2 separate regions of the Homo sapiens genome follow, and region 1 is linked to region 2. Evidence: fine-mapped expression QTL. A gene starts in region 2. The other region holds a variant in brackets. All regions are shown on one strand. Distances are from middle to middle. Region 1 holds the start of ARFRP1 (ARF related protein 1). Region 2 holds the start of LIME1 (Lck interacting transmembrane adaptor 1).

Region 1 (15,315 bases), 29 kb before region 2:
ACCTGCCAAAGACCTCCTCCAGGCCTCCCATGCTTTCCGGGAAGTGAAGCTTCTCCCTCTCTGGGGCAGGCTCTGAAGCCTCCCGATGCACCCAGAGCAACCGGGGGGCTGCACCAGCCACTCGCCTCCCCAGCACGGCCAGGTTCCCGGGGCTGGAGGTCCCCCCCAGGTCCTGGGAACCAACCTGCAGAACACACACAGGGTCCCCTGGAGAGGACGCGGGGACTTCCAGGGCCCGACTCCTGTGAGTCACAGCCCCGCAGCTGCTGCGCCACCCCCACCCTGACTCATGCCCCTTCCCAGCAGCTCCTCCCAGGACCCCATGTCCTTCCCACATCCGCAGGAAGGGAGTGCCTGGACTCTCCAGGCCCACCTGGGGAGCCCCTCACCTGCCCACCAGCCCCTGAGCAGCCCAGTAACACCATCACCGTGTCCAACAGCCAGGAGCCTCCACCCTCCAGGAGGGAAGGGATGGACAGAGCCACACTCGCCGTCTTTATTTTGCACTCACCCTGGGTGACACTGGGCAGGCCGCTCCTGCCCACAGCCAGACTGAGGAAGAACACAGCACTCGGCAGGCCCAGTGGGGTCCGTGCAGGGAGGACCCCAGGACCAGCCTTACTCCCGAGCAGGGGACACAGGGCCCCACAGAGAACCCCTCCGGGAGGTTCTCTCCTGGCTGGGGGAGGGCTCTGGACCCCCACAAACACTCCCCAACTTGCGGGGCTGGGGCATAAAAACAGCCACTCCCAGCAGGCCCCCTCAGCTTTTTGCATCAGTCAGCTCCCTCCCGGGGGATTAGGGTGAGGTGAAGCCAGGCCCAGGCGTGGGGTATAGGTCTTCCCCCGCAGGCCTCAGCCCTGTCCCGAGGCTGCATCACAATCCAGGGCCCCCGCTGGCCTTTGGGAACATGGCCTGGGTCTTCCTCAAGGCAAGATCAGCCCCAGACCACTTCCGGGGTCACGGGGTCACGGGGTCACAGGGCAGAAGCCAGATGGCAGCCATGGCTGACGGGCCTCCTCCTCGATGGGGCGGAGACAGCCACGGGGTCTCCCGAGGGTCCCACAGGGCTGTCCTCATGCAGCCCAAGCCAGCCTGAGCACTGGAGCCCCAATTCCCAACCAGGTCTCCCTCAGACCCCCCAGAAAGGGCCTCGAAAGGCCGCCGCTGCGCCCTGTGGAAAGGCTGCCGCTGCAGGGCCTGGGCCAGCCGGGCTGCCAGACTCCCCTCCAAAGCCTCCGGATGCCTACGCTTTTCCAGACATAGAGGAAAGTTTGTCTTCGAGAAAACAAAGTAAATAGAAGAACCCCAAAGCAAAGCAAACCCACCCCCCAGATCAGCAGCATGGGAGCCAACAGGAGGCCACTCCTCCAGCACCAGGGGACCAGCCGTCCCGACGGCAGCGCGGCTGCGCCTACGTGATGTCCCTCTGCCGCGGCGGCCGGTGCACATTCCGCACGACACACTTCACCATCCACTCGATGCCCTCGCGCACCCCTTTGCTGTGAAGACAGCGGGTGTGAGGCGGGGGGTCTCGGTCCCCAAAGCCCCCGCAGGTGCAGCCCCCACTCACCCTGTGAGGGCCGAGCAGGCCTGGGTCAGGCAATCTCGCCTGCCGATCTTGCTGGTGCAGTCGCTGAAGGCCGTCTTGATGTCAGGGATTGAGAGGCACGTCTGGGGGAGGTAAGGCCGTGAGGAGCAGCCCCCACGTCTGGCCCTGTCCTGCCTGTGGGCCCGGGACTCTCAGAAGGGCGTATGCCCTTCACCCCAGGGAAACAGCCAGAGCTCCACCAGGGTCCCAGTGTCTCCCACAGAGACCACAGCAGTGAGGACCCTGTGCTCAGCCCGAGGCTGAACATGGCTGGTAGTGCCTGAGACAAACTAGACGTCCACACGGCTCCAAGGAGTCCACCCCCCATCCCCTCCCTGGGGGACACCCTGAGCCCCGAGGTGGGGCGCTGAGGACTGAGGCCTCCTGGGCAGTGGCGGAGGCAGGTCCCAGGGGCCCACACAGCCGGGGATGATGGAGAGGTGGGAGCCCTGCATCAGTGATGGAGGCAGTCTGCAGTCATGGTGGCTTCTGCTCACAACCACCTGCCCAGTCTTCAAAAAGCAGCCCTCCCCTCCCCTTTTCCTCCGAGGGGAGACCCCTGCCCCGTACCAGATGTCCCTCTTGTCGGCTGAGATTGTAGGGGAGGCCAGCCTTACAGGCTGGGGGCAACAGAGCCACCCCAGAGAAGGCAGGAAGTGAAGATTCACCTGGCCCTCTGGACGCCGGGCTGCTTCTGTGCAAAGCCACTCCAAGAGAACAGCTAGAACTCAGCGTGGCCAGTGCTCCCGGGGGCAGTGGCACCTCAGAGGGGTCTTGAGGGGCTGCCCTGGGGGTGGGGCTGGCACAGATGCCACCTCCAAGGGTAGCAGGAACAGGTAAGGGTCAGAGCTGACTCCCACCAGGGCCCCAGCATCACTTCTTTGAGCTCTGAGTTTCACCTGGGTGTCCCCACAGCTTGGCCACACACTCCTGAGACACGGCCGCCCTCCTGGGGAGAGGTGCCCTGCATAGCAGGAAGAGGCCTCTGGGCGCCTGCCCTGAGGTGGGAGAACCTCCAGGGCTGGCAGCAGCAGGTCTGGAGAGGAACCAGGCTTGGGAAGCTGCTGGGGGCAGGGCAGGCCTTGAGAATGGCTCTGTACCCCCTGGGCAGTCACTGGGCCTGGGGTGTCTGGGTGCACACCTGCTCCCCTTGCTGTGGGGGAGGCTGGGGACTCGGGAAGCTGCTGCGGGAGGCAGGGGTGGGGCTCACCTCCACATCCTGCTTGTTGGCCAGCACCAAGACGGGGACACCGCACAGCGCCTCGCTGGTCACCACCTTCTCTGGGGAGGGCAGGAGAGGCAGCGCCTCACACCCAGCATCCTGCCTCTGACTGCCCAGGGGCCCACAGGCGTGGACACTGTGACAGCCACTCCCTCTGCCCCCCCCCCCCCCGTCACCCACTAGGCAGGAGCACTTCTGACCAGACACTGAGCCTGCCCCAGGCACAGAGCTGCCCAAGCTGGACCTGCCCCCACTCACCATCCATCCCTCCCAGAGCAGCCAGGCCGCACTCACCAAACGCCTGCTTGGACTCAGCCAGCCTCTCCTCGTCGGTGGAGTCAATGACGTAGATGACGCCGTGACACTCCGCATAATACTGGGAGGAAGCACCAGGAGTTGGGGCTCAGTCCCCACCCTGCCAAGGGCCAGCAGAGCCAGGCCTGTGTCATGGCCACAGTGAGGGGCTCACATGAGGAAGGGGCAAGAGGGCAGCCCCCAACTGCAAGACCCTTCTGGGATGCATTCTGGGGTTGCGGGGAGATCTGGTGGAGGTGTCCCCAGACGCTGCTCCTGAGAACCTGCCGGCAACCTTTGGCCTGATGGTGGCCAAAGGTGAAAGACAGGGATTGGGCCAGGCGTGGTGGCTCACACTTATTATCCCAACACTTTGGGAGGCAGAAGCAGGAGGATCACCTGAGCCCACTTCACGGCCAACCTGGGCAACACAGTGAGACTCCGTCTGTACAAAAGCTTATGGTAATGTGCGCCTGCAGTCCTAGCTACTCGGGAGGCTGAGGTGGGAGGATGGCTTGAGCCTGGGAGGTTGAGGCTGTAGTGAGCTCTGATCACACCACTGCACTCCAGCCTGGGTGAGAATGAGAGACCCTGTCTCAAAAAAAAGATAGGGTTTGGGGGCTGGAGGAACCTAGACCACAGCCTGGCCCGTTGAGGGAGTGCACCTGTGGGGCTCTGTGCCAGCACCTCGCACAGGGAGGGAGTGTGGCCATGCGGATAAGACTGACCAGCGCCATCTACGAAGCGAGCCTTCCCTGCCAGGACAGGGCCAGAGTCACTGAGCTCAGACCTCTGCAGCCTGGGCTGGTCAGTCCTGGGCTCGCTGGCAACACTCCTGGGCAAGACAGGGCACAGCCCCTGCAGCCTCAGGTACAAGTGCTGAGCCCTGGACCAGATGAGTGCACCTCTATCTCAATCAGAAAAAAACACAGCAAACTCCGCGTCCACGTGGAGCAGACAACAGCTCACATTTGCCACTTTGCCTCCAGGCTGTGCCAGCTCTCCTGTCCAGGCATGAGTGCCCAGAGACCTAGAACTGGATGCTGACCAGGTAGGACAAGCTGGTGGTCAGTGTGTTAAGACACACACACCCGAGAGCATGAGAAGCCAGGAGGCACAGC[C/G]CAACTCTCCGAAATCCTTAGGGTGTCTGAGCAGGGAGTACCAGACAACCCCATCCCAGTGCCAGACAAGCTTGTGCACCTGCACTTCCCACAGAGGAGAGAAGCCTGTGCACCTGCACTTCCCACAGTGGAAAGGAGGAGGCCCAAGGCCAGGCCCCCCCACCCCCAGGAACTTCCCACAGTGGAGAGGAGGCCCAAGGCCAGGCGCCCTCCAGGGTTCTGCAGGTAGCGAGGCCCCCCCACCCCCAGGAACTTCTCTGGCCTACAGACAGGTCCCACACAGAGGCCGCCAACCCCTCAAGGGACCCTGCAGTGTGCCGGCTGTCTGCTGCTGACACAAGGGAGCAGGCGGACCCTAAGGTGGAGACCTCTGTGGCAGGAGGGGCGGCTCTGTGGAGGCTGCAGCAAGCCCAGTGAGAGAATCTCCACGTGGCTCCTGGGGCTTCTGAGCAGGGTGGCAGAAGGTTCATGTGCAACCGGGTCCTGGACCATGGGACCACGTGGCCAGAGCCACCCATCACACCTACCAGGCACAAGGTGCACAGCCCAGCAGGGCCGCAGTGGACGGGAGCGACACCTCAGGGCTGAGTGCGGGCAGGACCCAGAGCCCCACGCCCCAGTGGAGGCGTCACAGCAGTGGTCATTGTGGGGTGCCCCACAAGGAGGGGGAAGAGGGAGGTGTCCAAGCGTGGCTCCTGGCTGGCCAGCTGACCCCAGTGGAGCAGTCAGAGGGACTGTGGGTCTGAGTTTTTCTCCCCAGCAGCAATGGGAGCTCCCCAACTGCAAAGTGCCAGCCAGCCTGAGAGACTAGTGTTACAGCAAAGAACCCAGGAGCTGAGGTCCTGGCACATGCCACACATGTGGACACCAACCCAGGGTCCAGCCCCAGGACGAGGCCAATTCGCAATGACGCCCCTTTCTGTGGTGCTGGCTCTGCACAAGGATGCAGGATACAGGAAACCAGGGTGGGAGCAGGGGCCTCCCTTCCGGTCCCTCCCAGTGACCTAGGGGGGTCCCTGCAGCTGATCCTCCCAGCTCTGAGCTCAGCAGGGTCAGGGGTCCCGGCCACTAGAGCAGCACATACTCAGCAGACACGCTGAATGACGAGCCACAGCTGCCTCATGGGCATGACTTGCACCTCATGTCTAGGAGACCCTGGTGGGCAGGAGATGGGGCTGCCATCCCACAGCTGTCCCACAGCTGGGGACCCAGGGAGCCACTGGCCCCACCACGGTGGTGTCTGGAGAAGGGCTCAGACTGCCAGGAAGTCGCACCCCAGCAGAAGTGGTAGTGAATTGGGAGGGCACTCAAGGAAGGGCTGTGCAGCCCCAAGACCAGCAGCAAGGATGGGCTACAGTGGCCCCCTTAAGTCTCCCTCTTCCAGTTTCGCCTTAAGAGAGGCCCTCAGGACCTTGGAGGAACCCCTCTCCAACGTGGAAGTGTGGGTCCACATAGGGCTGCAGCTGTGGCCAGTGCAGGCATCTCTGGCCCCACTGTATTCTTGCTTCATGTTGGAGAACACTGCACCAGCAGATGGTCTCATTTTGGTTTCTGTGGGACCCACTTTGGCTGCAAAGAGCCACACTGCCAGGTCACACCTGCCCAGGGCAGCCCACACTGGGGACCCACCAGGCCATGGTGTGAAGTCCCGGCCAGCCTGGCCCCACATGGCACAGCATAGCCAGTTCTCCTCCAGGGCTCCCTGCTGGGCCAACCACAGCTCTGTGGATCCTGCTGCCTGAGTCGACCTCTCCTCTCCCGTCCTCCCTGCCTTCCTGGTGCCGACCCCCAGTGTGCATCCTGTACCTCGACCTGTCTCAGCATCTGTGCCTGAGACACCGGCCTGTGACAAGATCATCATCATCTGTGTCACTCCCCAAGCATGCTGCGCACTGGACACACAGGCCCTGACTCAACTTGTCCTGTCTGACTTCAGTGGTCCTACAGGATCTATCAGAGATCACTTGGCCATGGGAGAAATGTCTTCTTGGCTAGAAGTCACAGCAGGAGGGGACACTTTGGGGGCGCCTAGGAAAGGGGAACTAGGATCAAAAAAGAGATCAGGACCTGGGCACTCAGCTCTAGAGATGGCATCAGGGCAGCCAAGGCACTGGGGACACCCCACACCCACTGTGCCAGCCTAGGGCAGGGAGCCCGAGGAAGCCACAGGCTCTGCCCTGCTCAGTGCTGGACTCAGTGCCTGGCCCAGGCTGAGAAGGAGATAAACTGCAGCCTTGGGGGTGTGGGGAAGGGGCACCACACTGGGATCTCAGAAATGCCCAAAACCTGTGTCAAAATAGGAGACTGCCGCTGTGAGACCCTGAGGAGTCTTCTGGTGATCATGGAAGAACAAATGTTAAGCTAGAACTGAAGGAACCTCATCAGGGGAGAGGCAGCCATCCTGCCGTCCCCACATCTGGTCTTTGCCATTTCTGTGTCCTGTGGTGGTCAGCAGCAAGGTCTCTGAGCCGAAAGGAGGCACTCACTTTGGAGGAGTGCAGGGTCCCCAGGTCCCCACACTTTGTCTTGTCCTGACTGAGAAAGAAACAGACTGCCCTGACCTCTCTGACTTGGCCAGCGAGGTTGCCCTTAGGCTCAAACCCAAGCCAGGGTTTGAACATTCCCAGACACTTGTAAGATGTTTAGGTTGTTAACATAATGTTCAGGTTTCAAAACATTGAAAGAAACTAGCCCCAGCCCTGAACCCAGATCCCCCCCGGCTTCAGGCATGACCAGTGAACACGCCCTTCTCTCACTGGTCACCTGAGGATGCCGCACTCTGTCAACAGGTTCCCCTAATACATGCTCTGATCTGATCGCCTTGGCATTTAGTGATTCTTTCCCTGGAATTCTCCACTGGCCCCATCGCAGGGAACTCCCAAGTGGGAAACTCCCCTACCACCACTTTTGGGGCAACTTCAGCTAAGGGTTCAGCTGGGACAAAACAGGGAGCCACTCGGGAACCTGGGACAGGACCAGAGAGAAAACCCGAGGGACAGAGTGGGTAAGGAAAACTGCTGAGGAAGGGCCCAAAGGGCACTCTGGAAAGAAGTGGCACTGGAGGGCTGGGGTGGGGGTGGTCCTGGCCAGGGAGTCTTACCTTGTCCCACAAAGACTGCAGCTCTTCCTGCCCTCCTAAGTCCCAGAACATGAGCCGAGCCTTTCCCACATCCACAGTGCCGACTGGGGAGAGGAGGAAACAGGCAAGGCTCATGACCTTGGTCCTCGACACACCCAGTCCCAGCTCTCCCAGGGGATGGGGCAAACCATGCTGGTGCCACTCAAATGAGACTTGAGAGGGGCCCGACAGGGCTGTGGCCACGGGCCAGCTGGACTGTGAATATCACGGCATCCTCAAGGCCCCAAACCCACAGCCTGCTATTGAGACCCTTACTGTTTAGGCCCACGGTGGTGGTGATTTTGGATAGACTCATCCCCTTGTAGTTCTTGTTAAATCGGGTTTTCGACTGCTCCAGGAAGGTCTGAGGAGAGAGGCAGAGGCGAAACACATCAAGGAGGGGCTATACTGGCTTCCAAATATCCTTACTCAGGTCTGTTCTTTAAAAGACAGAAACAGAAACAGAGCAACACTCTGCTCTTCAGGAGGCTGGTGGTGACTATCCTGCCGTCTCAGGTGAAATTTGGCTTCCGTCTGGGTAGTGAACGTGCAGCTGACAGCACAAAACCGAAGGGGGCGCCGCCAGGCCGTGGGAAAGGTGCGCGCAAGGGCGTGGGCACTCACCGTCTTCCCAGCATTGTCCAGGCCCAGGATCAGGATGCAGTACTCGTCCTTCTGAAACATGTACTTGTACAAGCCCGACAGCAGCGTGTACATCCTGCCCTGGGCACCCCAACATAGGTCAGTGTGCAGCCAGAAAGCACCTCCCCTCCCCCGGGCTTCTCCACGGTGGTCAGTGGCGCCCCACGTCCAGCCGACCGCTCAGGACGAGAGCCTGGGGGCCATTCCCGACTCCTCGTCCCTCTCCCACCCCGTCCCTCTGTAACTTCTCCCAGGTCAGCCGCCACTGTGTCCTGCTCACAGCAATGACTGCGACCTCTCCGCATACACATCGGTTCCGGCCCCTCCCCTGCTCGCGGGACTACCCAGCCGGGTGTTCACAGTGAGCTCAGCCGCGCTCCCGCCCTCCCCCGAGGCTTCGCTCCCACGCTTCACGCGCGCGGAACGGGGAACACACTCGCTGCAGCCCCGCCTGGGCCACGGCACCCTCGAGCGCCAGCCCCGCGCCCCACCCGGGAGCAGCGAGCCACCGGCGCGCTCCCCAGGAGCCCCTGCAGGCGCCGGGTAGGGACGCCCCATCACCCCATTTCTTAAAACGGGGACGGCCCTGGGGGGAGCGGACTACAGGGCGGGTGAGCAGCGGCGCGGCTGCTCCTGGAGTGCACCTGGAGGCGGCGCGCGGCTGGCAGGGAACGACTGCGAAGGAAGAACCTGGGTCGCGGCCCCCGGCTACGTCCGCCCCAAGCCGCCGCCGCCAGGTCTGAGGCTCCCCGACAAGCAGCCAAAGCTGGCTCCTGTCACACCCGCGTCCCACCTCGAGTCCTGGGCCGCCCCTCGGGCCTCGCGCCTCACCGCACAGCCTGCGGCCTACCTGCGTCCGCCGCGCCCTCGGAGCCGCTGCTGCTGACCCCCGCTGACCTCCGCTGACCCCGCGCTAACCCCGCGCGGCGCCTGACGGGACGCGGGCCGGCCTCAGGGAATGAGCTGAACCGCGTCCCAGCGGCCTCCGCGCTCCGCTTCCCGGCTGCCCCCGCGCGCCAAGCACTTCCGGAAGCGGCGGCGCTCGGGAGGAAGTGCCGATCGGCTGCTGGGGCGAAAAGGGGGCGCCGGGCCGCTCTAGCCGGTGAGGCCGGCGGGCTCTCTGTGGCTGCGGCTGGGAAACCGCGCGGAGGAGGTGCCCGGCCGGGGACCAGGTGGCCGCGGTTTGCGGGGACGCGGCCCTGGCCAGACAGAAGAGACGCCGGGCGGGGGGGCGCGGCCGGCCTGGAAGGCGGCGGGCGCGGCGGGTGGGCTCGGCGGAGGGTGAGGCGGCGGGGCGCCCCGCGGGGAAGGGGCTCCGGAGTGACGCGGGACCCGGCTAGCGGCGAGCCCACGGCGGCTCGGAAGGGAAGCGCGGAGCCTGAGCGGGGGTACCCGGGCTGCGACCTCTGCGCTGGGAGCTGTGCCTCTGAGCCGGTGTCTCCCCGAGGGAAAGGGGACGTGCCCGTGCCCGTGCCCGCCCTCAGGCTGTGGGGTCGGTCCCGAGACGCGGGGCTCAGCTGGCTTCTCTTCTTGCAGCCCTGGTCCAGCGCCTCCCTCTCTCAGCATGGACGAGGAGAGCCTGGAGTCGGCCTTGCAGACCTACCGTGCGCAGCTGCAGCAGGTGGAGCTGGCCTTGGGCGCCGGCCTGGATTCGTCTGAGCAGGCTGACCTGCGCCAGCTGCAGGGGGACCTGAAGGAGCTCATCGAGCTCACCGAGGCCAGCCTGGTGTCTGTCAGGAAGAGCAGCTTGTTGGCCGCGCTGGACGAAGAGCGCCCGGGCCGCCAGGAAGATGCTGAGTACCAGGCTTTCCGGGAGGCCATCACTGAGGCGGTGGAGGCACCAGCAGCGGCCCGTGGGTCCGGATCAGAGACCGTTCCTAAAGCAGAGGCGGGGCCAGAATCTGCGGCAGGTGGGCAGGAGGAGGAAGAGGGAGAGGACGAGGAAGAGCTGAGTGGGACAAAGGTGAGCGCGCCCTACTACAGCTCCTGGGGCACTCTGGAGTATCACAACGCCATGGTGGTGGGAACGGAAGAGGCGGAGGATGGCTCGGCGGGTGTCCGTGTGCTTTACCTGTACCCCACTCACAAGTCTCTGAAGCCGTGCCCGTTCTTCCTGGAGGGAAAGTGCCGCTTTAAGGAGAACTGCAGGTAAAGCCCTTTGTTGTCAGATGCCAACCTTAGGGGCGTAAGGGGCACGCACACAGGGTCGGGTCAGGATCGGCCCTCCCTTTGCTTTGCAGTTTTGTCTCAGCTTCCTGGGGCAGGCGTGCTTTGACAGCTGTGTCTGTGTTCAGGCGTCTACGTCTTCCTTCTGGGGTGAATCAAGAAGCATGGAAGGAGGCCAGGCGCGGTGGCTCACGCCTGTAATCCCAGCACTTTAGGAAGCCGAGGCGGGCAGATCACCTGAGGTCAGGAGTTCAAGACCACGCTGGTCAACATGGTGAAACCCCATCTCCTTAAAAACACAAAAATGAACCGGTCGTGGTGGCGCGCACCTGTGGTCCTGGCTACTCAGGAGGCTGAGGCAGGAGAATTGGTTGAACCCAGGAGGCCGAGTTTGCAGTGAGTGGAGATGCAGCCACTGTACTGCAGCCCGAGCAGCAGTGCAAGGCTTATGTGGAAGAGAGTAGGTCTCCAGCCTATCGTCAGTTTTTTTTTGGTGGTTGTTTTAATTTTTTTTGAGACAGGGTCTTACTTTGTCAACCAGGCTGGAGTGCAGTGGCATAGTCCTGGCTCACTGCAGCCTGGACCTCCTGGGCTCAACCGATCCTCCTGCCTCAGCCCCCCTAGGAGCTGGGCTACAGACTCACGCTACTACACCCAGCTAATTTTTATATTACTATAATTTTTTATCTTTTTTTTGAGATGGAGTCTTGTTCTGTTGCCCAGGCTGGAGTGCAGTGGCGTGATCTCGGCTCACTGCAAGCTCCGCCTCCCGGGTTCACGCCATTCTCCTGCCTCAGCCTCCCGAGTAGCTGGGACTACAGGCGCCCGCCACCATGTCTGGCTAATTTTCTGTATTTTTAGTAGAGACGGGGTTTCACCATGTTAGCCAGGATGGTCTCAATCTCCTGACCTCGTGATCCGCCCACCTTGGCCTCCCAAAGTGCTGGGATGACAAGCGTGAGCCACCGCGCCTGGCCTTTTTTTTTTGGAGACAGAGTTTCACTCTCCTCACCCAGGCTGGAGTGTAGTGGCGCAATCTCAGCTTACCGCAACCTCTGTCTCCCGGGTTGAAGTAATTCTCTACCTCAGCGTCCAGAGTAGCTGGCATTACAGGCGCCCGCCACCACACTGGGCTAATTTTTTGTATTTTTAGTAGAGTCGGAGATTCACCATCTTGGCCAGGCTGGTCTTGAACTCCTGACCTCGTGATCCACCCACCTTGGCCTCCCAAAGTGCTGGGATCACAGGCGTGAGCCACTGCGCCTGGCCCTGTTGTTAGTTTTATTCTCTAGAGTTCAACTTTTAAATTTTACTTTCATGGAGATTTTCAAACATACCCCAAATTAGAGAGTTTAGCATAATCACCGCCCACGGTCCATCATCCAATGTCGTCATTTATTAATATTTTCCCAGTCTCATTTTGTCTGTTCTCCCTGCCCTATTTTTTTCTTTCCTGGGCCATTTTAAAGCAAATTCCAGAAGTTACTGGTTTTTTCCAATTATGAATACTTCATAGTTGCATCTCTAATCTAACTGATTAGGAAATTACTTAAAAAGTAACTTTTTGGAAGTCCAAGTCCGATGTGAGGACAAAAAAGAGTAACTTCTGTGTCATAATAGGTAACACATTTAATGGTAATACCTCTTCCATATTCAAATATGAACAATTATTACTGTAATGTCTCTATTTCCCTAAGCGCATAGCTTTATTTTTCCTCCTTTTTACTTTTCTCTTAGAAGAAATATTTACCAAGCCTTCTAGTAGGTAATTTTCTTTTTTAGCCAATAGTTCAGGCTGACCGTGTAACCATCCCTAGTTCTAGTTCTAGTTCTTTGAATGTCTTCCTTTTTTTTTTTTTTTTGAAACAGCGTCTTGCTGCTCTGTCACCCAGGCTGGAGTGCAGTGGCACAATCTCGGCTCACTGCAATCTCCGCCTCCCTGGCCCAAGCCATCCTCCCACCTCAGCCTCCCTAATAGCTGATACTACAAGTGTGCACTGCCACGCCCAGCTAATTTTTGTATTTTTTGTAGAGACGGGATTTCACCATATTACCCAGGTCTCGAATTCCTGATCCCTTTGATGAGAGATCTGACACATCCCTGTGGTGCTCCCTCTGGGCCAGGCACTGCTCCAAGGGTTTCATATACTTTCATTCATCTGTGCAACAGCCCTGTAGGTAGGCCCTGCAGTCACACCATCTGACAGAGGAGGAAACAGGAGTAGAAGAACTGAGTGGTCCAGGGCTTCAAGGCTCAGAGGGCTCCGGTTGCCCCCAGCCCTCGTTCCGTCCCCTGCTCCACCCAGTGCTGCTTGCCATGTCGGCATCAGGCCTGATCTGAAAGCTTCCGGAGCATCTTACAGACGTCCACCTTGCCACCATTCAGGACTGATAAGTTCTCTTGGATTTGCGTTGGACCTTTTTTTTTTTTTTAAGATGGAGTTTCACTGTTGTTGCCCAGGCTAGAGTACAATGGCATGACCTCCACCTCCTGGGTTCAAGGGATTCTCCTGCCTCAGCCTCCCAAGTAGCTGGGATTACAGGCGCCTGTCACCACGTGGTGCCCAGCTAATTTTTATATTTTTAGTAGAGGCAGGGTTTCACCATGTTGGCCAGGCTGGTCTCGAACTCTTGACCTCAGGTGATCCCGCCTTGGTTTCCCAAAGTGCTGGGATTACAGGCATGAGCCACCACACCCGGCCCAGGATTTCTTTATATATTCTGGATATCATCCCTTATGAAGTATATAGTTTGCAGATATTTGCTCCCATTGTTTGGGTTGTCTTTTCACTTGATATAGTGTCCTTTGATGCACAAACATTTTAAATTTTGATGCAGTGCAATTTATTGTTTCTTTATTGCCTATGTTTTTGTCATCAGGTTTAAGAAACCACCTCATCCATAGTTATGAGGATTTTCACCTATGTTTTCTTCTAAGAGTTCTGTAGTTTTAGCTGTTAAATTTAGGTCTTTGATCCATTTTGAGTTAATTTTTGTATATGTTATTAGGTGAGGGTCCACTTTATTCTTTTGCATGTGGATTTCCAGTTTTCCCAGCACCATTTGTTTAAAAGACTGCTTTTTCTCCACTGAATGGTCTTGGCACTTTTGTCCAAAATCAATTGGCAATATATGTAAGGGTTTATTTCTGAGCTCTCTCTCCTGTTCCATTGGTGTATATGTGCCAGTACCACACTGTTCTGATTATTATAGCTTTGTGATAAGTTTTAAACTCAGGAAGTGGTAGTTATTCACCATTTGCTCCTCTTTTTCAAGTTTGTTTTGTTTCTGGATCCTTTGCAATTTCATATGAATTTTAGGATCGGCTTGTCCAATTCTGCATAAAAGACAGTTTGAATTTTGATATGGATTGCATAGAATGTGTAGATCTGTTTGGGGCACATTGTCATCTTTACAATATTAAGCCTTCTGGCTGGGTGTGGTGGCTGACGCCTGTAATCCCAGTACTTTGGGAGGCTGAGGCGGGCATATCACTTGAGGTCAGGAGTTCAAGACCAGCCTGGCCAACGTGGTGAAACCCCGTCTCTACTAAAAATAAAAAACAAATTAGTCGGAGGTGGTGCACACCTGTAATCCCAGCTACACGAGAGGGTGAGGCAGGAGAATCGCTTGAACCTGGGAGGAGGAGGTTGCAGTGAGCTGAGATCATGCCACTGCACTCCAGCCTGGGTAACAGAGGGAGACTCCATCTTAAACAACAACAATAACAGAAGAAAAAAACAGTATTAAGTCTTCCAATTCATGAATGAAGGATCTGTCCATTTATTTACGTCTTTAATTTCTTTCAACAGTATTTTGTACTGTTCAAGTCTTGCACATTCTTGGTTAAATAAGTATTATTTTTGATGCTTCTCTAAGGAATTGTTTTTCTTTTCCTTTTTTTTTTGAGACAGAGTCTTGCTCTGTCACCCAGGCTGGAGTGCAATGGCACAATCTTGGCTCACTGCAACCTCTGCCTCCCGGGTTCAAGCAATTCTTCTGCTCAGCCTCCCAAGTAGCTGGGATCACAGGTGCCTGCCACCACACCCAGCTAATTTTTTTTTTTGAGATGGAGTCTTGCTCTGTTGCCCAGGCTGGAGTGAAGTGGCCCAATCTTGGCTCACTGCAAGCTCCACCTCCCGGGTTCACACCATTCTTCTGCCTCAGCCTCCTGAGTCGCTGGGAATACAGGTGCCTGCCACCACGCCCAGCTAATTTTTTGTATTTTTAGTAGAGATGGGGTTTCACCATGTAGCCAGGATGGTCTCGAACTCTTGACCTCAGGTGATCTGCCTGCCTCGGCCTCCCAAAGTGCTGGGATTACAGATGTGAGCCACTGTGCCCGGCTGGAGTTGTTTTCCTTAGTTACATTTTCAGGCTGTTTGTTGCTAGTATATAGAAATACAAGCTGGGCACCGTGGCTCACGCCTGTAATCCCAGCACTTTGGGAGGCCAAGGCGGGTGGATCACCTGTGGTCAGGAGTTCGAGACCAGCCTGGCCAACATGGTGAAATCCAGCCTCTATTAAAAATACAAAAATTAGTCTGGCATGGTGGCAGGTGCCTGTAATCCCATCTACTCAGGAGGCTGAGGCAAGAGAATTGCTTGAACCTGGGAGGCGGAGGTTGCAGTGAGCTGAGATCGCGCCATTGCACTCCAGCTTGGGGAACAAGAGTGAGACTTCATCTCAAAAAAAAAAAAAAAGAAATACAGTGGATTTTTTTATGTTAATCCTGTATTGATTGCTGAATTGGTTTATTAGTGCTAATAGGATTTTTTATGCACTATTTAGGATTTTCGATATATACAATCATATATATTCAATATATACAATTAATATATATGTGAATAGAGATAATTGTAGTCTTTGTTTCTAGTTTGCATGGCATTTATTTCTTTTTCTTGCTTAACTGCCTTAGCTAGAACTTCAAGTACAATGTTGAATAAAAGTGACTAGAGCGGGCCGGGGGTGGTGGCTCACACCTGTGTTCCCAGCACTTTGGGAGGTGGAAGTGGGCAGATCACTTGAGATCAGCAGTTTGAGACCAGCCTGGCCAACACGGCGAAACCCCATCTCTACTAAAAATACAAAAATTAGCTGGGTGAGGTGATGTGCACCTGTAGTCCCAGCTACTTGAGAGGGTGAGACATGAGAATTGCT
Region 2 (15,315 bases):
TAACCCAAAAGGCTCCCCACCACACCATGTGGTTTCAGAGCACGTTGTGAGTTCAGCCAGCCCCTCTCTCTTTGCTTTCACTTCACCCTGGCCTCTCTTGGAGCTCCCAACACCTGCAGTGGTTTCCTCAAGAGCCAGGCCCTTCCTGGGAGAGCTGAGCCCTTCTGTGGCTCTCATTTTCAGAGTCTTCCTGTTAAGTATCTGGCTGGCCCAGTGCTCACTCCAGCTGGGATCACAGCCCCAAATGATCAGGGCTGTCAGTTTTCTTTGTAAGTGTTTATCGAGTCACCACTTTTAACTACGAGGCCTGGGTTTTCCCTTCTGTCCCACATCCACCTCTGCTGCTGCTGGTTTTTGCAGCCAGCCTTGACCTGGTAAATCACTCAGATTTGCTGACTCAGGAGTAGGAGCCAGGGGCAGCCCCAGGTGCAAAGGCTGTAGACTTCCCAGTATTCTGGCCCAAGGCCCAACATTTTTCAAGAAGAATCTCTTCTCAGTGAGTTCTCAGCTTTGGTCAGTTTCCAGAACTCTGAAAAGTTCTAAATCAGTGAGTTTTGATAATTTTGTCTAGTTTTAGATTATTTTTTCTTTTTTTCTTTTTTTTTTTTTTTGAGATGGAGTCTCACTTCGTCACCCAGGCTGAAGTGCAGTGGTGCGATCTTGGCTCACTGCAACCTCTGCCTTTTGGGTTCAAGCGATTCTCCTGCCTCGGCCTCCCGAGTAGCATAATTATAGGCGCACGCCATCACACCGGCTCATTTTTAAATTTTTGGTAGAGGTGGGGTTTCACCACGTTGGCCAGGCTGGTCTCAAACTCCTGACCTCAAGTGATCCGCCTACCTCAGCCTCCCAAAGTGCTGGGATTACAGGCGTGAGCCACCGCTCCCGGCCCATATTCGATTCAACGACCTCTCTACTTGAGTGTGGCTGGAACTCAGAAGCTTCTTTTAGTTTTAGATGTTGTTTGTTTTCAGGGTTAAGTCTTTACTAATTCTGGAATGTATTTCTGTCAATGCTGTGAGGTAGGTGATTGGGTTGGGATCTTTTATGTATGAAAACCCAGTTTTTAATTTTCTCTTGTGAAATCCATCGTCTTTCTCCTTGCACCCCATCTGTGATGCTTCCTCTGCCACACGAGGCTTTCTGTGTGAGGGGGGGCTCTTCCTGGAGGCTCTCTTTTGCTCCATTGATCGATTTGCCTGTTCTCTTGGTTTTCAGTTAACTTCATGGATATGCCATTAACTTCTCTCCATGGTTAGAAATTTAGGTTATTTCCAAGTTTTTCATATTTGGTTAATATCTTTGTGGCCAAATCTTTACATACATTCTCCTTAAAAATCATGTCACTGAGGCGGAAGGATTACATGAGCCCAGGAGTTCAAGACCAGCCTGGCCAACATGACAAGACCTTGGCTCAACAAAAAGATTCAAAAATTAGCTGGCATGGTGGCACACTCCCATAGTCCCAGCCACTTGGGAGGCTGAGGCAAGAGGATTGCTTGAGCCCAGGAGGTCAAGGTTGCAGTGAGCTGTGATCCTACCATGCACTTCAGCCTGGGCAAGAGAGCAAGACTCTACTGCGCACACACACACACACACACACACACACAAAATAATAGAAGCACTTTCTGGGTTAAAGAGTTTACAAATTTCAAGGCTTTTAATATTGTCAAATATTCTAGAAGAGGTTTTACTAATGATGGTGTGGGTGTGCTGAAGGGGCGTATTTAATCGAATTCACTCTGGGTTTAACCCTCTCTTTTTGAACATGTTCTCAGTCTCCTTTCAGCCAGTCTCTGCTGCAGTGCATTTGAGGCACAGTCCTGTAGCCCCTGGCGCCCCCGGTCATTGGCAGGGCCCTGTGTGCCTAAGAACAGTAGGCACTAGAAGGAACCGCCCAAAATCCTGGCCTGGGGAGGTGTACGAGGCCACCTTTGTCTACGCATGAGACAAAATCCCTGTTCCACCTCACTCTGCTCCACCCACCCGTTCCTACTGGAAAGACAGCCTTGGCTCCATGTCACGGGCTGAAGGCCTGTCCTCAGTTGCTCCTTTTTTGTTTTTTTGAGACAGTCTCACTCTGTCTTCCAGGCTGGAGTGCAGTGACACAATCTCTGCTCACTGCAACCTCCGCCTCCCGGGTTCAAGCGATTCTTGTGCCTCAGCCTCCCGAGTAGGTGGGACTATAGGCACGCGCCACCACACCCGGCTAATTTTTGTATTTTTAGTAGAGACGGGTTTCTCCATGTTGGCCAAGCTAGTCTCGAACTCCTGACCTCGTGATCCACCCGTCTCGGCCTCCCAAAGTGCTGGGATTACAGGCGTGAGCCGCTGCACCTGGCCCCTCAGTTGCTTTTGTGGGGTTGAAAGAACTTCCTTTTTGAAACGATGGCATGGCAGCAGTGGATGGCGGTTGGTTTTTCATGTCTTTATTTGGCAAAGTTGAAGATTGCAGTTCTGTCTGTCCCCACATTTCCTCTTCATTCTCTCTCTCTCTCTCTCTCTCTCTCTCTCTCTCTCTCTCTCTCTCTCTGTGTGTGTGTGTGTGTGTGTCTCGGTTTTGGTTTTAATTTTACTGGTTCACTGATGCCTAAAAGTCAAGGCATCACTATTTCATAAGCAGGTTCTCCTAGTTTGGGGGAGGACTCAGTCATGCACATACACACCCCCAGCACATCTGCCTTGATGCACTGGTGCTGTGGCCTGTGCAGTAGTGAGGCTGTGGGAGCTGCTGTCAGAAGGCTGCTGCCACACTGTGACTCCAGCAGAGGCGATGGGACACACGGGGCATATTCTGGAGCAGCCAAGTCCATCCCGAGAGAGAATGCGGGTGTCTGTGTGTGTGATGTGTGTGAGACTGTGTGTGTGTGTGCATGTGCATACATGTGTAAAGTGTACAGTTGGCCCTTGTGTGTGTGAGATTGTGTATGTGCATACGTGTGTAAAGTGTACAGTTGGCCCTTGGTGTGTGTGTATGTGTGCATGTGCATACGTGTGTAAAGTGTACAGTTGGTCCTTGGTGTGTATGTGTGCATGTGCATACGTGTGTAAAGTGTACAATTGGCCCTTGGTGTGTGTGTGATTGTGTGCATACGTGTGTAAAGTGTACAGTTGGCCCTTGGTGTGTGTATGTGTGCATGTGCATACATGTGTAAAGTGTACAGTTGGCCCTTGGTGTGTGTGTGATTGTGCATATGTGTGTAAAGTGTACAGTTGGCCCTGTGTGTGATTGTGTGTGCATATGTGTGTAAAGTACAGTTGGCCCTTTGTGTGTGTGAGATTGTGTGTGCATACGTGTGTAAAGTGTACAGTTGGCCCTTGGTATCTGCAGGTTCCATATCCATCATTTCAACCAATCTCGAGTTGAAAATAATTGGGGAAGAAAAGGATGGCTGCGTCTGTACACTGTATAACAACTATTTACATAGCATTTACATCGTATTAGGTACTGCAAGTAATCTAGGGATGATTTAAAGTACGTGGGAAGATGTGCGTAGGTTATATGCAAACACTATGTCATTATATATAAGGGACTTGAGCATCCTTGGATTTTGGTTTGCACAGGGGGTTTCCCATGGATACCAAGAGACTACGTGTGTATGCAAGTGTGAGTGTGTATATGCATGTGTGTATATGCATGCCATGTGTGTGCATGTATGTGTATATGCATATATGAGTGAGTGCACGTGACAGTCTACACGTGAGGGTGCATGTGTGTGCGCGTGTGGGTGACTGCATATGTGTGTGCATGTGTGGGTGCGGGTGCATCTGTGTGTGCATGTTTGGGTGCGGGTGCATGTGTGCGTGCACGTGTGTGTGGATGAGAGGTCGCATGTGTGTGGGTGAGGGCGTGTGTGTGTGCATGTGTGTGGGTGAGGGGGCATGTGTGTGCACGTGTGTGGGTGAGGTGTGTGTGTGCATGTGTCAGGGTGTGTGTGCGCGCATGTGTGTGGGTGAGGGCCTGTGTGTGCGTGTGTGTGGGTGAGAGATGTGTGCGCATGTGTGTAGGTAAGGGTGCTTGTGTGCGCATGTGTGTGGGTGAGGGCGTATGTGTGTGGGTGAGGGCACGTGTGCGCGCGTGTGGGTGAGATGGCGTGTGCGTATATCCATGTATGACTGCATCTGTATTTGCATGAGTTCATGTGTGAGTGCATGTTTATACGCGTGTCAGGGTCTCTGTGTATGTGTATGACGTGTGAGTACATGTGTTAATGTGTGTGTACATGTGTATATGCCTGTGTGCATGTGTGTATGCATGTGTATACATGTGTACTTGTGTATGTGTATATGTGTATGTCTGTATATGTGTGTGTATGCCTGTGTACGTATGTATATGCGTGTGTGTATGCATGTGAGTGCATGTTTATGCGTGTGTATGTGTACTTGTGTGTGCCTGTGTGAGTGCATGTGTGTGTACATGTGTATATGCGCGTGTGCGTATGCGTGTATGTGTACGTGTGTATATGCATGTGTGTGTATATGCCTGCATGTATATGCACAAGTGTGTATATATGTGTATGTGTGAGTGTATGTGTGCATGTGTATCTGTATGTGCGTGTGTATATGTGCATGTGTGTATGTGTGCGTGAGTGTGTGCATGTGTGTGTGTATGTGTGCGTGTGTATGTGTGTGCGTGAGTGTGTGAGAGTGTGTATGTATACGCACGCGTGTGTGTCTGTCTCCCTCAGGACAGTGCCCAGGCGGATGGGTCAGTGCTCCTGGGTTGGTTTGCCCCTGGTGGCCCATGTCTGAGCCCTGCCCCTTACGGCTCTGTCTGCAGGTTCTCCCATGGGCAGGTGGTCTCTCTGGATGAGCTGCGCCCCTTCCAGGACCCAGACCTGAGCTCCCTGCAGGCCGGCTCTGCGTGTCTGGCCAAGCACCAGGATGGCCTCTGGCACGCAGCACGCATCACCGGTGAGGCTGGCCGTGGGGGCCTCCCGGGAACACCCTCCCAGGCCCCACGTGTGTTGTCACTGTGTGGCTGCTCCCTGCTTCCTTTGGGTTGAGTGTCGGGACTCTGGCTCTGGGCCCGAAATGAGCACACCTACCCTCAGCCTCTGCCCTGCCTTGCTCCTCATGTCCAGGGTGGTTCCCTTCAGTGGCACCTGCTGTCAAGGATTCTGACCTGCAGCTTGTCTCTGCCCCCAGATGTGGACAACGGCTACTACACAGTCAAGTTTGACTCGCTGCTGCTGAGGGAGGCCGTGGTGGAGGGGGACGGCATCCTGCCCCCACTGCGCACAGAGGCCACAGAGTCCGACTCAGACAGCGACGGTACGGGTGACTCCAGCTATGCCAGAGGTATGGCAGCAGCTGCGGAGCCCAGGAGCCAGGAAGGTGGGGTCACCCTGAGAGGCTCCTGGCCGGTGAGGGCACCAACCATCTAACCAAACTATTGGAGAGTGTGTGACTGCGGCGAGGGTGCCACCTGTGCCTGAGGAGGCCGTGTGGGTAGGGGTAGATCCGTGGCGGCCTTTATCTTCAAGGAGTGTGGGTGCAACAGCTACAGTCTCATTGATGGGAGGCCATGGTCGTGGCTGTGGCCATGGGAGAGGAGGGGCCTGGAGTTGCCGAGGAAGTCACAGAAAATGACCAACTGATGGGGCCTGGAGTGCAGGAGGGGCAGCTCCTCTGCATGGCTTCTCAGACTTGGGACCTGGGTGCCTGGGATCCTGGCAGACAGAGGTTGTGTCCAGACAGCCAGCATGGAAGTTTCGGGAATGGGAACTGGTGGGCAGTGTCCAGCTCTCCAGAGGGGTGTGTGTATGCGTGTGCGTGTGTGTGTATATATGTGGGAGGTCACCTGACCCAAGCATGGCGGGCTGAGTCCAGGAGGGGTCTGCATGTTGGAGGTGTACCCAGGGATCAGTGATGGTGGTTTCTGAAGCCCCATGTCCCTGGTGAAGGAGGACTGAACCAAGGACTCTGTGAGGGCAGGTGAGGCGCTCACAGCCTCGCGAAGGTGGAGAAGGGCAGGGGCAGGAGAGGGCTGCGGAGGAGGGGCCACGGTGCAGCAGGCCGTGGGGACTGCCATGCACTCTGCCTGGTGTCACATGCCCACAGCAGCCTCGGTGACGAGAGCACGGAGCCCAAGAGGTGGGGTGTCGTGGCTCTGCCCAGGATCTGAGCTCATTGGTCAAAGCCCGGGTCACCATGCACAATCCTCTGGCCTGGCTGGGCCACTGCCCTCTGTCCATCTCTTGCAGTGGTGGGGTCGGACGCCGTGGACTCTGCACAGTCCTCTGCCCTCTGTCCGTCTCTTGCAGTGGTGGGGTCAGATGCTGTGGACTCTGGGACCTGCAGCTCTGCCTTTGCTGGCTGGGAGGTGCACACGCGAGGTATAGGCTCCAGACTCCTCACCAAGATGGGCTATGAGTTTGGCAAGGGTGAGTACAAGCTGCCCTGGAGAAGTGGGCAGGCTGCTGCAGCATAGCCCAGGTCCAGCAGCCATCAGGTTCCCGGGGTCCCGCAGCCATCGGGTTCCCAGGGTCCCGCAGCCACAGCACTGCCATCCCCGTGCTCCTCAGATTCCCGGGGTCCCGCGGCCACAGCACTGCCATCCCCGTGCTCCTCAGATTCCCAGGGTCCTACGGCCACAGCACTGCCATCTCCGTGCTCCTCAGATTCCCGGGGTCCCGTGGCCACAGCACTGCCATCCCCGTGCTCCTCAGATTCCCGGGGTCCCGCAGCCACAGCACTGCCATCCCCGTGCCTCCGCAGGTTTGGGCCGACACGCGGAAGGCCGGGTGGAGCCCATCCATGCTGTGGTGTTGCCTCGAGGGAAGTCGCTGGACCAGTGTGTGGAGACCCTGCAGAAGCAGACCAGGGTTGGCAAGGCTGGCACCAACAAGCCCCCCAGGTGCCGGGGAAGAGGGGCCAGGCCTGGGGGCCGCCCAGCTCCTCGGAATGTGTTTGACTTCCTCAATGAAAAGCTGCAAGGTCAGGCTCCTGGGGCCCTAGAAGCCGGGGCGGCCCCAGCGGGGAGGAGGAGCAAGGACATGTACCATGCCAGCAAGAGTGCCAAGCGGGCCCTGAGCCTGCGGCTCTTCCAGACTGAGGAGAAGATCGAGCGAACCCAGCGGGACATCAGGAGCATCCAGGAGGCTCTCGCCCGCAACGCTGGCCGGTACGTGTGGGGCCCAGCTCAGGGCAAAGGGCGACCCAGGGTGGCCCTGCCCCCGGGATACATGCTGGAGGTCACCTGACCCAAGCATAGCGGGCTGAGTCCAGGAGGGGTCTGCATGTTGGAGGACGGGCAGCGGGCACACAGGCAGTGGGTACGGCAGACTGGGGTTGGTGGCATGGCCCAGGACCCCACGCTGACTAGTGAGCCCCTCCGCAGGCATAGCGTGGCGTCAGCCCAGCTGCAGGAGAAGCTGGCAGGAGCCCAGCGCCAGCTGGGGCAGCTCCGGGCTCAGGAAGCCGGCCTGCAGCAGGAGCAGAGGAAGGCAGACACCCACAAGAAGATGACTGAGTTCTAGAGACCCCACAAGCACTATGGACGAAGCGTGGGACCCCAGCACGGGCTGCCCTCAGGAAGACCAGTGTTGCCCGAGGAGGGGCCGGCCTGCTGGCCTGGGGCGTGCAGACACTGCTGAGTGGAGACAGAGCTGCGGGGTCCCATCTGGACACTTACTTGCCCACCTGCCAGTGTCTTGGGCATTTCCTTGGCAAGGACATTAAAGTGATTTCATCACAGTGTCATTCAGTGGAGATCAGCTGGCTGCAGGGTCTCTGGGGAGAGAAGGGTCTGTGCAGGGCTGTGGTGAGAGACGGGCTGGGCTGGAGGGGCCTAGGAGGCCGGCATTCTCCCTTCTTACCCTTCTCTGACCAAGGCAGATCGGAGGCCAGGGTGCCCGCCAGGCTGCCTGACACCCACAGATGGGTGGAGCTCAGTGCTGCTCCAGCGGGCGAGACGGGCGGGAGAGGACTGTGGCCCACCACGTGGGGCACTCTTGGTGAGGCAGGCGGACCTGGCCCTGTGGGTTTGGGGGTTCTGTGCCAGCTCTGCTCACGTCTTCGTGTGTGGAGGGGTTGTGAGTTAGGCTGTCAGAACAGTGCGGGCTAGAGGCGCACACGTTTCATCTAGGCTTCGGGCGGGGCGCAGCAGGTGGGTGAGGCTGCGGTGGTGGCTGCTGCCCAGGGTGGGAGGCTCAGGGGAGGCGCTTGGCGACAGGAGCAGGAAGTGATGAGGTGGGGAGCTCAGCCGAGGGCTGCACAAAGACCTTCCTGGCCTGCCCCAGACAGAGCTGAGGACCCCTGGCCGTGGGCTTGGTAAGTGCCCTCCTGGGGGGCAGCTGGGGTCTGGGAGGCCTTGGGATGTGGCTGCAGCTGGGTCAGTCAGCCAGGCTGAAGCCCACTCCCTGGGTCTGAGCAGACTGGCCCCAAACTCCAGAGACCACCCCTCACCCCCCAGCTTCTGTCTCTGCTGCTGGACTGTGCTGTTTGTAAGGCATCCCCCACCCCGAGAAGTTCTGCTAAGATCCCCAAGAAGGGGACAGATCCTCTCTGGCAGAGACACTGGCAGACAAGAAGAGCCAGAGAGAAGTGGGGTGGGGGCATCAGCACCCCCAGCAGCTGCTGCTGCCTGCTGACCCAGCCTCCAGCTCCTCCGGGTGCAGGGTCCCTCCTGCTGACCAGCCTCCAGCTCTTCCCAGTTCTGGGCTCCGCAGCGAGCGGCTTGGGGGCACTACCTGACACAGGAGACCATGTCTGGGCAGAGGGTGGCTGCAGGTGGAGTCTGTGGCCTGTGGCGCACACCCAGGGGCTCCCCCGATGCTGGTTACTATCTGGGCTATGGTGGCCACAGCTGTCTTGCCCCTCCTCACGGCCGTGCTGGGTGTTACCGTGGTCACCCGCAGGGACACGGAGGGGCCAGGCAGAGCAGCCCTAGTTCACCTCACCGGGAGCCCCCGCCAGAAGGTGGGCACCTCTGGGAGGGAGGGACTGCCAGGCCTTGGGGCTTCCTGTGCTGAGTCAGAGCTGGAACGGGAGACGCAGGAGCCCCGCAGCCGCGGGAGGTGCAGATTTGGGGCTGCCAGGTGGCGCCAGGTCCCCTTGGCCAGCCCCCAGCGCCCCTTTCTTCTGTCCCCAGGGCCTCGGCTTCACAGGATGGGGCTGCCAGTGTCCTGGGCCCCTCCTGCCCTCTGGGTTCTAGGGTGCTGCGCCCTGCTCCTCTCGCTGTGGGCGCTGTGCACAGCCTGCCGCAGGTAGGTCCCTCAGCCGCGTTCTGTCTGGGGCCTCGCTGCGGCTGCCATTCACAGCCCAGCGCGGGAAGGGGCTGGAGGCAGGTCCGCGCACCCAGCTCGGCACGCGCGCCTGCACCGGGCCTTGGACCCGAGGCTGACGACCCCGCCCCCCGCCCCCCACCTCTACCCCCAAGGCCCGAGGACGCTGTAGCCCCCAGGAAGAGGGCGCGGAGGCAGCGGGCGAGGCTGCAGGGCAGTGCGACGGCGGCGGAAGCGGTGAGTGCCAGGCTGTCCCGGGGACCAGGGTGGGGTCCGCAGGGCACCGACCAGCCTTCCTCGCCCCCAGTCCCTACTGAGGCGGACCCACCTCTGCTCCCTCAGCAAGTCGGACACCAGACTGCACGAGCTGCACCGGGGCCCGCGCAGCAGCAGGGGTGAGCAGAGGGCGGGGCGGGGGCGGCCGGGCGGGGCTTACTGTGCAGCGCGTGCCAACCCCTGGGCCAGACCCGCTCCTGCCCCCTGCCCGGAGTGAACTCTGCCCTGACCCCACCCCCAGCCCTGCGGCCTGCCAGCATGGATCTCCTGCGCCCACACTGGCTGGAGGTGTCCAGGGACATCACCGGACCGCAGGCAGCCCCCTCTGCCTTCCCACACCAGGAGCTGCCCCGGGCTCTGCCGGCAGCTGCAGCCACCGCAGGGTGCGCTGGCCTCGAGGCCACCTATTCCAACGTGGGGCTGGCGGCCCTTCCCGGGGTCAGCCTGGCGGCCAGCCCTGTGGTGGCCGAGTATGCCCGCGTCCAGAAGCGCAAAGGGACCCATCGCAGTCCCCAAGAGCCACAGCAGGGGAAGACTGAGGTGACCCCGGCCGCTCAGGTAACGTGGGCCAGGGTAGGGCGCTGTGGGTGGGGCCGGCAGATCCTCAGCAGGTTGGATGGTGCTGACCCCTCCTCGGGTTGGCTTCCTGTCTCCAGGTGGACGTCCTGTACTCCAGGGTCTGCAAGCCTAAAAGGAGGGACCCAGGACCCACCACAGACCCGCTGGACCCCAAGGGCCAGGGAGCGATTCTGGCCCTGGCGGGTGACCTGGCCTACCAGACCCTCCCGCTCAGGGCCCTGGATGTGGACAGCGGCCCCCTGGAAAACGTGTATGAGAGCATCCGGGAGCTGGGGGACCCTGCTGGCAGGAGCAGCACGTGCGGGGCTGGGACGCCCCCTGCTTCCAGCTGCCCCAGCCTAGGGAGGGGCTGGAGACCCCTCCCTGCCTCCCTGCCCTGAACACTCAAGGACCTGTGCTCCTTCCTCCAGAGTGAGGCCCGTCCCCCGCCCCGCCCCGCCTCACAGCTGACAGCGCCAGTCCCAGGTCCCCGGGCTGCCAGCCCGTGAGGTCCGTGAGGTCCTGGCCGCTCTGACAGCCGCGGCCTCCCCGGGCTCCAGAGAAGGCCCGCGTCTAAATAAAGCGCCAGCGCAGGATGAAAGCGGCCAGCCTCGCAGCCTGCTCTTCTTGAAAGCTGGGCGGGTTGGGGCGGGGGGCTTCTCTGGAAGGCTTGGAGCTGTCCCCTCTGGCCTTGGGGGACTGGCTGCCCCCGGGGCGCCCGGGCCTAGCCGAGGCGGTGCTCCTGCCGGCCAGACTCTCGGTCAGTGCGGGCACGGGGTCCCAGCCACTCCTAGGGGGCAGCGCAGCCGGCAGGGTGGCCGCCCCCGGGTGGGACTTGGACCCTGGACTCCACGGGAGGGCTCCGCCACCCAGCCTGGTGTTACATAAGGGGTGGTGGAGGTGGGCAGTCGAGCGTTAAAGAGTAACCTGCTGCCGGGAAGCCCGCCAAGCAATCGCGGCCCCTTCCCCGGCTCTGGCAGCTCTGCGAGCGCGCCCGTGGGGAACGGGCCCTCCCCGGCGGGGCGCGCGGGCGCGCGAGGTGGGCGGAGGCCTCGGAGCTGTGCCGGGCCGGGCCTCCCTCCCTAGGCCAGCGCGGGAGCGACCCGGAGGGGGCGGGCCCGGGGCGGGGCCTCGAAGCGCTGGCCGGCGGGAGCGCGGCCGGCCGGGCCCGCCCGCCTGCGGTGTGGACGCCGCGCGGCCAATGCGCGCGCCGGGACGGGACGGGACGGGGCGGGGCGGGGCGGGACGAGACGGGGCGGGGCGGGGCGGGCCGGGCAGCCTCCGGGCGGCGCGGCGCGGGCGGCGGCCGGATCCAGGGCGGGGGTCGGCGGCCCGGCCAGCCCGGCCCGGCCCGGGGCCGCGTCCTGAGAGTCAGCCCTCGCCGCTGCAGCCTCGGCGCCCGGCCGGCCGGCCATGGAGCGCCCCCCGCCCCGCGCCGCCGGCCGGGACCCCAGTGCGCTGCGGGCCGAGGCGCCGTGGCTGCGCGCGGAGGGTCCGGGGCCGCGCGCCGCGCCCGTGACGGTGCCCACGCCGCCGCAGGTACCGGGCGCCGGTGGGCGGGGGCGCCGACCAAGTTTCTCTCGCTGCAAAGATGGCGTCAGTGCTGCCCAAACTTCGGGCCCCCGGGGGCGGGGCAGCGGGGAGGGCGGCCGCGTCGGTCCGCGCGTGTCCGTGGGTCCCGCCGGGGCTGCGCCGGGCGGCCGGGGAGCCCTTCCCGCCGCGCCGGGCTGGGGGCGGGGCCGGGGGCGGGGCCGCGCCGTCCACACCGGCCGCAGCCGGTTTTCGAGGCGGGCGCCGAGCGGATCCGCGGCGGAGGTTGAGGGACCCCCCTCCCCCGGCCACCGCCTCCGCTGAGTCTGCCCCCTCCCCATCCGCAGGGCTCTTCCGTGGGCGGCGGCTTCGCGGGCTTGGAGTTCGCGCGGCCGCAGGAGTCGGAGCCGCGGGCCTCGGACCTGGGGGCCCCCCGGACGTGGACGGGGGCGGCGGCGGGGCCCCGGACTCCGTCGGCGCACATCCCCGTCCCAGCGCAGAGGTGAGCGGGAGGCCCGGTGCCTCGGGACTCGGTGTGCGCAGGGGCGGTGGGTGGGGTGCGGAGACACCGGCCCCGACGGAGGCCAGGTCAGGGCCCCAGGTTTGTAATTACCAGCCACCCCCAAGCTCTTCAGCCCTGGAGGAGCTGAGCAGAAATGATCGATGACTGGGAGTCCCTACACCTCCCTCCACCGCAGTTCCTCGGGGCTAGAGCTCAGAACCCGGAGCGGGTGGCTGTGCGTCTCTGTGCAGAAGAGGCTGCGCGGTCGGCATGGGGCGACTGTCCAGGAATCCCTGGGGCTCCTGACCGCCACCTCCCAACCCCTGCCAGGCCGGACACCTCGGTCTGGCTGCCAGGGCAGGGGCGGGCCCTGGCCTGGCTCGCTGGGGCCTGGGGAGCTGCCCGTGCTTCCAGCCCAGTCTCCCCCTGGCTGCTGCCGGCTGCTGGCCACTCCCACCTCCCAGGCCTGGCGTGAGGCCCACAGCTGCTGTTGCACAACCCTGGTTAATGTGTGATGGGGGGAGGCCTGGGCCTGGCCCGCCCCTCTGCCAGGGCTTCAGACCCCTGCCCAGCCCCAGTATCTGAAGGAACCACAGTGGAGCCAAGCCCGCGATGTGGAGAACTCAGGCTTCAGGAGACCCTGGCCCTGCTCCTGGCGGCTCCGGGTGGCTTTCAGCTCTCTCTGCAACCTGAGCTGGGGGAGGAGCCAGGCCTCATGCCCAGGGCTGGGAGTGGGGAGCCTGGTGTGCACGCGTGCCCAGGCCTGCACGTGGACCGACCAGGGGAGGGGCCCAGAGCTCTGGCTGGGTCACCCGCACCCCGCCCCCATCTCCTCCAGAGCCACCCCAGGAAAAGCCCGGCTGGACGAGGTCATGGCTGCCGCTGCCCTTACAAGCCTGTCCACCAGCCCTCTCCTTCTGGGGGCCCCGGTTGCAGCCTTCAGCCCAGGTAAGACTCAGATGTCTGCATTTAGGGGTGTGGGTGGGGACAGGGCTCAGAACCTACAGCCACCCAGCCTCTGTGGGGCAAGCAGAGCCCTCAAACCTGGGACTCCTTTCTAAAATGGACTCCCGCACCCTCAGTGCCCCCTACTGAGGCCAAAGCGGCAGGACCCAGGCCTTCTGGCCTCCCTGACCTGCTCACCTCCACGCGGCTGGCCACACACGTCTGCCAACCCTTTCCTGTGCCGGGGGGGTTTCTCCCCAAGCCCTGGGGCCAGCTCCTCCAAGACGCTCTGCCCACCAGTCTCACCGGACTTGGTGAACAGGGGCAGCTCAGGATTAGGGACTCCCTGGACCCACCCGAAGTTCTAAGGCGGGGGGCCCGTGTCCCCACAGAGCCTGGCCTGGAGCCCTGGAAGGAGGCCCTGGTGCGGCCCCCAGGCAGCTACAGCAGCAGCAGCAACAGTGGAGACTGGGGATGGGACCTGGCCAGTGACCAGTCCTCTCCGTCCACCCCGTCACCCCCACTGCCCCCCGAGGCAGCCCACTTTCTGTTTGGGGAGCCCACCCTGAGAAAAAGGAAGGTGAGCTTGGGGGCGGCCCCCAGGGAGGGGCGGGTGTGGCGGCTGAGCCTGACCCTGGCCCCTGTTGCTGCAGAGCCCGGCCCAGGTCATGTTCCAGTGTCTGTGGAAGAGCTGCGGGAAGGTGCTGAGCACGGCGTCGGCGATGCAGAGACACATCCGCCTGGTGCACCTGGGGTGCGGCGGGGCCTGGGGTGCGGCGGGGCCTGCGGGTTGGCTGGGGTTGTGAGGCCCGGCCAGGCCACCCCTTCAGCTCCCACTGGCTGGCTGTGTCTCCCGCAGGAGGCAGGCAGAGCCTGAGCAGAGTGATGGTGAGGAGGACTTCTACTACACAGAGCTGGATGTTGGTGTGGACACGCTGACCGACGGGCTGTCCAGCCTGACTCCAGTGTCCCCCACGGCCTCCATGCCGCCTGCCTTCCCCCGCCTGGAGCTGCCAGAGCTGCTGGAGCCCCCAGCCCTGCCTAGTCCCCTGCGGCCGCCTGCCCCGCCCCTGCCCCCGCCCCCTGTCCTGAGCACCGTTGCTAACCCCCAGTCCTGTCACAGTGACCGTGTCTACCAGGTGGGTGAGGCCACGGGTGGCAGCTGGGGCGGGTCTCAGGGCTCTCTGGAGGGGAGTGAAGCCCTGGCTGTGTCTCCCTGTAGGGCTGCCTGACGCCCGCCCGCCTGGAGCCGCAGCCCACGGAGGTCGGAGCCTGCCCACCCGCCTTGTCCTCCAGGATCGGAGTCACCCTGAGGTGCGTGTGGGCTGAGGGCCTGCGGCTGGCACCAGGTGGGGAGGGTCCTGGTCTCACAGCACCCCATGTCCTGTGACCCCCCGCACAGGAAGCCCCGCGGCGACGCGAAGAAGTGCCGGAAGGTGTATGGCATGGAGCGCCGGGACCTCTGGTGCACAGCCTGCCGCTGGAAGAAAGCCTGCCAGCGGTTCCTGGACTAAGTCCGGCTCGTTCAAGAACATAAGCTACCACCTTCTCCCTCCCCACCCCCTCCAGGCCCGGGGCTGAAACAGCCCGAGGACAGCCCCAGGGGCTGGCTTTCACCAGCTGCAGGGTCTGCTTTTACTTGGGGTGGGGGGGCGGGGCTGACCCTGAACCCTCCCCCCCGCCAGGTCGGGGAGGGGTCCCACCACTCAAAGTGCCTCTAAAGAAACCAGCTTTTTGCACTAAAGCCAAACCACACCGCTGTCCCCTTAGCCCCAAGGGCCCTGGGGGCAGCCACCCTCCCGCCTGTCGGCCCGTAGATTTATCAAGGGTGTTATGGGCCCAGCTTTGGGGGGCCAGTCCCGATGCACTTTGAGGGGTGTTGGAGAGGGGACTCCCCCACTCGCACTTAACTCAACGGCTCTCGGGCCCTGGGGCTGTTTTTACCATGTTTGTTTTTGAAGCTCAGGTGTCTCACGTCTGGGCTGCACCAGGCGAAGAGAGAAATTAAAGATTTGAGGTTTTTCCAGAAGCTTTGTCTGCCTCTCGGGAGGAAGGCCGTGGGGCTGGGACCCTGTGGTGGGCAAGTGGGTGGAGTCTGGCAGCTGCCCACAGAGGGCCGAGGGTCACCCGTCGGCCGCCGCCACCCCAGGCGAGGCCGGAGGAAGGATCATCTGAGACGCAGGAGGCATCTGCTGGAGCAGCAATTTCCCAATTTATTGAAAGTGATCGCTTTGCAAGGATGTCTAAGCTAATCCCGTCACAGAAAGGAAACGCACA

Evidence for each region. PIP is the estimated chance that this variant, and not a neighbour inherited with it, causes the effect.
Region 1: its variant is fine-mapped to the expression of LIME1 in whole blood (TOPMed, PIP above 0.99).

The regions. Positions count from the first base shown.
Region 1 is chr20:63,699,029-63,714,343 of GRCh38, forward strand. ARFRP1 (ARF related protein 1) reads right to left here and starts at 8,948. Exons shown (of 8, transcript NM_001267547.3): 1 at 8,839-8,948; 2 at 7,971-8,069; 3 at 7,623-7,710; 4 at 7,329-7,411; 5 at 3,108-3,189; 6 at 2,802-2,872; 7 at 1,574-1,674; 8 at 1-1,502. The coding sequence starts at 8,063. The coding sequence ends at 1,415. It overlaps ZGPAT (zinc finger CCCH-type and G-patch domain containing), which reads left to right and starts at 9,011. Exons shown (of 7, transcript NM_181485.3): 1 at 9,011-9,090; 2 at 9,525-10,136. The coding sequence starts at 9,553. RefSeq lists enhancers at 164-343, 414-463, 512-1,393, 8,014-8,073, 8,936-9,896 and 1 more and silencers at 8,224-8,273, 8,364-8,603, 9,024-9,083, 9,124-9,283. The variant C/G (reference allele first, on the strand shown) is at 4,229.
Region 2 is chr20:63,728,439-63,743,753 of GRCh38, forward strand. It overlaps LIME1 (Lck interacting transmembrane adaptor 1), which reads left to right and starts at 8,226. Exons shown (of 6, transcript NM_017806.4): 1 at 8,226-8,274; 2 at 9,095-9,209; 3 at 9,383-9,464; 4 at 9,535-9,622; 5 at 9,745-10,061; 6 at 10,160-10,665. The coding sequence starts at 9,112. The coding sequence ends at 10,462. ZGPAT (zinc finger CCCH-type and G-patch domain containing) reads left to right here. Exons shown (of 7, transcript NM_181485.3): 3 at 4,781-4,914; 4 at 5,149-5,301; 5 at 6,267-6,386; 6 at 6,721-7,126; 7 at 7,343-7,704. The coding sequence ends at 7,481. It overlaps SLC2A4RG (SLC2A4 regulator), which reads left to right and starts at 11,338. Exons shown (of 8, transcript NM_020062.4): 1 at 11,338-11,600; 2 at 11,939-12,093; 3 at 12,932-13,041; 4 at 13,431-13,618; 5 at 13,692-13,792; 6 at 13,898-14,177; 7 at 14,261-14,352; 8 at 14,441-15,315. The coding sequence starts at 11,475. The coding sequence ends at 14,552. It overlaps ZBTB46 (zinc finger and BTB domain containing 46), which reads right to left. Exons shown (of 5, transcript NM_001369741.1): 5 at 15,232-15,315. RefSeq lists enhancers at 16-335, 3,912-4,454, 7,652-7,831, 8,411-9,327, 9,527-10,121 and 2 more and silencers at 9,262-9,481, 9,552-9,701, 9,782-9,841, 10,846-11,345, 11,596-11,745 and 1 more.